Regions from separate parts of the Homo sapiens genome. Here region 2 is linked to region 1. A link means that fine-mapping ties the variant in region 1 to the expression of a gene that starts in the linked region. Tissue or cell type: whole blood. Region 1 holds a variant in brackets; the other region holds the start of a gene. All regions are shown on one strand. Distances are between the middles of the regions.

Region 1 (2,923 bases):
GAGGAGAGAAAAGACCTTTCCAGAATCTTTAACATAAGATTTTTTGTGTGTGTGAAGTCTGACCTGAGCAGCAACCTTGCATCAGACTTCAAAAGGCAATATTTCCTGTACCTCCTTGTGCTGTACAAGTGAGTACAGAAGTCGAGAAAATGTTCCTAAGTCTATGGCCAGTTCAAATTCCATCATTTTCTATTTCTGAGATTAAATTATATGTATTAAGATCCTTACTCTGCCCTTTCATGTTTATTGCTCCTCGGACAAGATATCCCCTCTTCAGGTCCCAAACACATTCATTGCAATGCCTTTCCTCATCCTTGTCCCAGTCCTGGCTCTCTAGCTTCTTGAGACAATAACCCATCCTAAGGTATGTGGTGACATGCATCTTCTGCCTCACTGGGATCCCTAAGTGGTATAAGCATTCACTCAATTGCTTTAGCTAGAGTCCCCAGAATATCTTCACCCTCTGCTGTCACACTCTTCTTCCACATTGGTCCATAACCACATCTTTAACATTTCTGTTTATTAAAACCTCTCAAATTCAACCACTATTTTCTATCCCAACCAATACTGCCTTAGCTCAGGCAACCACTGTCTTTCACCTGAATTCCTTCAACACTTTCCAAATATCCACCTACCTGATGTCTTACTCTCTGTTCTAACTCAGTTCATTCTCTGCAGCTGAAAACACTTCCTTTCCATTGACTTTAGGGTTATGACCAGTCTTCTTTATATCTAAATGTTAGCCTGTAAGTTCTTTTTGTAAAATAAATAAATAAATAAAAATCTTCCAAACTACAAATTCTTAAAACCCTCCATGATTTGGCCCTTGCATACCTATCCAGTCTTGTGAAATTCACCTACTCTTTACCCACTTTTTGCATACTTATGCTCTAATAATATTCATAATCCCTTAGCTCCATATGTACTTTCTTACTCACTCCTGAGCCTTTACATATGCTGTTCACAGTACTTAGAATAATCTTTCTCTCCCTATTTATCTGTACTACTAATCCTTCCCGTTTAGGCCTGAGTCTTTAACTGTGGTAAATACCCCATGGTATCCAGAGCTTCTACAATCATAGAGTATCACACACTTCATTGCTTAACTTATTATGATAGTTTTAAAAATTATTAATACAAAATATGCTCAATGAGGCCAAGACCATGTCCAAGGTTTAATTTTTGTATCTTCAACAGTATTACAGGCTCTGAATAAAGTAGGCGCTCTATAAATATTTATTGAACAAACCAGGGTTTTATCAGTTCTTGCCTCTCTAGCTAAGATATGATCTCAGCTATCTAAACATTTCTCTCTCAAAAGTATTGCTGCAATTATTTAGAGATTTTCACATTGTGGTAGACTGAAGAATAATCTCCCAAAATGATCAGATCTGAATCCTTGAAAATTATGAATATGTTCGCTTACATTGCTGAAAGGATTTTGCAGATGTGATTAAGTTAAGGATCTTGAAATGGGGAGGTTTTCCTTGGTTAGCTGAGTGGGCCCAATATCGTCACACACTTTCCTAAAATATCTTACCAAAACCACACCACCTCTGTGAAGCCCTCTCTCTTTTCCCAGACAGATATGGAGGTTTCTTTCTTTA[C/T]GTGTTTATAACAAATTAAAGAAACTTCAACTTCTATCACTATGTTATGATATTTATGGTCATGTCTGACTCTTCCTAGACTAGAATGGTTTTTGAGGGATTGGACTATATGTTCATTTACCTTTGTAAATCCAGTATGTAGGACTTGGTACAATATATTGGATACAGAATTATAAGCCCGATAGGAGCAGAAAACTTTGTTGCTCATCCTTGTATCCCAGAATCTAGTACTATGTCCGATGAGTGTAGTAAGAGTGAGGCAAGAGGATGCAAGTCAGAAAAAGGCTATGTGACAACAGAAGTAGAGATCAGAATGACAGACACTTTGAAGATGGAGGAAGGGCCCTGAGCCCAGTAGTGCAGATGGCACCTAGAAGCTGGAAAAGGCAAAGAAATGGATTCTCCCATAAAGCCTACAAAAGGAACACCACCTGCCAACACCTTGATTTTTAGCCCCAAAGACTTATTTCAGACTTTTATCCTGAACAGGACAGAAGCAAAAAAATGGAATTGATCAACATAAAAGCAGAAGTTAATAAGGTAGAAAATTTTGTAATGATAGAACTAAGAAATAAGCAAATGAGATCATTGTTTGCCAGCCAAAAGACAGAGAGGACAAATATACTAAAACAGAAGTGACAAGGGGAAGTATGATAAAGTCTATTTTTAAAAACAATATTTTGTATAATTCTCTGCAAACAACCTAAAAGCCTAAATGAAATGGCTCACATTATAAATTTAACAAAACTGACCCTAATGTGGATAAAAAGCCTAAACAAAACAATGACTACAAAAGAAATAAATAAATTTGTAATAGAATTTCCTCACAGAAAAGCGCCAGTCCCATATAGTTTCTTACAGGGATTTTTCCACACCTTTTAAAATCAGGGACTTTGAGAATACCTAAAACATTGCAAAGTATAGAAAAGTAGGGGAAATTTCTAAATTATTTTCATGACATGACCTTAATATTTATAACAAAACTCAACAAAACTGCACCTTAAAAAAAAATCTATAGACCGGCCAGGCGTGGTGGCTCCCATCTGTAATCCCAACACTTTGGGAGGCCAAGGGGGGGCGGATCATGAGGTCATGAGATCAAGACCATCCTGGCTAACACAGTGAAACCCCATCTCTACTAAAAATACAAAAAATTAGCCAGGCGTGGCAGCACGTGCCTGTAGTCCCAGCTACTCGGGAGGCTGAGGCAGGAGAATCGCTTGAACCCGGGAGGCAGAGGTTTCAGTGAGCCAAGATCGTGCCACTGCACTCAAGCCTGGGCAACAGAGCAAGACTCCAACTCAAAAAAAAAAAAA
Region 2 (2,923 bases), 110 kb after region 1:
TCCACGGGCCCCACATTCGCATTTTTTCCAATTCCCTCTGGTTTCCATTTGCTTCCTCCCTCTAGCCCCCTGGCCATGTCCGATCTCAACACGAAGTTTCTGAGCTTTTCTCATTTTGTTCACCATCTCCAGAACATCTCTGCTTCTTTTACTTTTCAAAGAATTTAAACTTGAACTCTGCTCACTCCTGCCCATCACCAACCTGAGCTCAGAGTTGCTGAGAAGGGAAAGCACCCTCATAAGGAAGCTCCTCCTTTCCTTACATCATTAGACTTGATCACAGACAGCATCTCCATCTCCACACTACTCTGGCCAGGTTGTGCCTCAGTCAATTACACAACTGTGTCTTAGTAGCCTTGGTAGGGCCCAAATCAGGATATTCTCTGGGAAGATTCACTTGATACTAAGCCCAGCATAATCTCACTGCATCTAAAATAGAAAATTCTAGACCCACCCCTCCACATCTTCTTATTGATCCCAATATGTGACCCATTTACCATGTGCTAAAATCTCTACCTACTGCTGATTCTCAGATCAGATGGTAACCCAGATTTACCATGGTCCAAACTCTGACATCTGATCAGGGGCATGTCATTCTGGTTCAGGCTGTCAGCCCTGAGCAGGTGAGTCAGTTTGCATCACCCTAAGTGCAGGTTGCCAGGACAACCGTGAGGCTGCATAAAAAGAACCTATGACAGGATGCACATGAGAGAGACAAGTGGCTTCACATTGAAGAAGGGGAGGAGTGCGCCATTGGTTTTCCATCCTCCAGATGCACTGAGTAAGCTCCTACCTAACCTGTGTCCCCTCCTTCTTTGAAACACTTCCCATCCTTTTAAGCCTTGGTAGGAAGGAGAGCCATCTGGAAGCCCAGAATCCTATGGAATGCTAAGTCTCCCTTCTCCTTACCCCTTAGTGTTGGAATTCTGGATACCCAAAGTCTTGGATTTGACCTTTGTGCACAGTGACTGCAAAGAAGCATATTCATATTCACAAAAATGAGCCTTAGATAAGACTTTCCTCCTCTCGTGGGGGCTCCAGGAAACTGAAAAGCCAAGCTTGTTACCAATGCTTGCCCTTCCTTAAGTACATTATTAAATACATCCCCAATAGTTAAAAGGACTCCTAGACACCCAGGCCATTCTCCCTCCTTCTAACCCTCATCTCCTCGGCCTACGAAAGCCCAGCTGTGTGATCCGGGGATTGGTTTCCCCTGTCTTCCCCATCCCAGCATCCTTCCAGGAAATAGCCAGTCTCCCTCTCTGCTCTCAGAAGGCAAGTTTCCTTATCACCTGTGAATCACAAACCCACAGAGTGGCCAAACGTAGCCGAGCTGATGCAAGACCCTGGCAAGGGGAAAGCTGCAGGTGTGTTTGTGCTGGGAAGAACTGTGACCCTCACCTCACAGACACCTCCTCTCCTGATTCTTGGAAGGGTATAAGGACAGGCCTTCCACCACCAGTCAGGCACACTCTACCACCATGAATCCATTCCTGATCCTTGCCTTTGTGGGAGCTGCTGGCGAGTTTCATGACCTGCCTCAGGCCCCACCCACCCCCTTTCCTGGCAGACACATGCCCTGCCATTCTTGCCACCTCTCCTCTTTTGACTGCGCTCTGATATTCTATTTCCTCCATCTGACATATCTCCTTCCCATCCTCCTTGGGCTCTCTTTAAGCCTCACCTGTTTCACCTTTTCCCTCATTTCACTCCCACCACTGTCATTCATCCATATCCGAGCTGTGGTTGGAGAAGCTGGGAAGGGAGACCAGGTGGGGCTGGCCCATGAAATGAAGTGGCAGGCTTCAGGCTTGGCTCCAAGAGCACCAGTATAGCACCACTATAGCTGCTCTTAACCTCGAATGCACCTGGGGAGGTTCAAAAATTACTCATGCCAGAGATTCAACTCTAGAAGTTCTAACTTCATTTGTCTGGGGTGCAGCCTGTGTACTGGGCTTTTAAGCTTCCCAGGTGATTTTTAACGTTTCCAGGCATGCCGCCAAAGTTAAGAATTGCTCTTCTATTGGCCAATAACAAAGTCTACCTTTGTTATGCCAAAGTGAGCCTGGGGCTGCCCTCAACTCTGCCCTCACTGCACAGATCTGAGCTATGGGGGAAGCTAGTCATGGCCAGGTCTACCCAGACAGGGGGTTTTCCTAGCTTAGCCAAAGTATCCTGACAATCCAGGGCTCAAATAGCCAGGGCAAGTACACAGGTGATGAATAAAAGAGAGAAGCACTCAGTGGGTGAGACAACAACATACCAACTGCTACCCCACTGGAAGCATTTTGAGGACATTCCTTGCATCCTCAGCCTGGTGTCCCCAGGAGAGATCTGAGCCCCTGCAGGGTACCTAGCTACGTGCCCTGCAGACACAGAGACTTGGGAGCCACATCCAGTGATGCTCACCAGGGGTGGCAGCGCTCCCTCCCTTGCCTGGCCTCACTGGGCTTGTTAAGGATTTCTAATTGGCAGGAAGCAACCGCAGGCTGGGAGCACCACCCCTAACATGCTACTGACTTGCCTTCTCCCTTCCTATTTCCACTCCAGTTGCTGTCCCCTTTGACGATGATGACAAGATTGTTGGGGGCTACACCTGTGAGGAGAATTCTCTCCCCTACCAGGTGTCCCTGAATTCTGGCTCCCACTTCTGCGGTGGCTCCCTCATCAGCGAACAGTGGGTGGTATCAGCAGCTCACTGCTACAAGACGTAAGTGTGGGGCCCCTGACTGCAAAGCTCCCAGCCAGGCTGCCTGGGAGAGCTTGGCTTCAGCCCAGGGAAGTACTGAGGTTGGGTAAGACGGATGGGAGAGGTGGTGGAAAAGAAAACTTGTTGACAGCAGCTGACTCTCCAGAGCAAGGCCAATCCATGAAACAGCAAGGGTTGTGGTCATAAAAGCAGGCAGGGATAATCTTGGAGTTG

The links. PIP is the estimated chance that this variant, and not a neighbour inherited with it, causes the effect. A credible set is the group of variants that fine-mapping cannot tell apart.
Region 2: PRSS3 starts here. The variant in region 1 is the best candidate, but not a certain one, in a credible set for the expression of PRSS3 in whole blood (TOPMed, PIP 0.67).

Annotation. Positions count from the first base shown.
Region 1 is chr9:33,682,831-33,685,753 of GRCh38, forward strand. All of the region lies in intron 3 of PTENP1-AS (PTENP1 antisense RNA), which reads left to right. Among named protein-coding and RNA genes, the nearest start is that of PTENP1-AS, 7.0 kb to the left of the region's middle. The variant C/T (reference allele first, on the strand shown) is at 1,608.
Region 2 is chr9:33,794,093-33,797,015 of GRCh38, forward strand. PRSS3 (serine protease 3) reads left to right here and starts at 1,469. Exons shown (of 5, transcript NM_002771.4): 1 at 1,469-1,521; 2 at 2,551-2,710. The coding sequence starts at 1,482. All of the region lies in intron 3 of UBE2R2-AS1 (UBE2R2 antisense RNA 1), which reads right to left. RefSeq lists an enhancer at 2,018-2,518.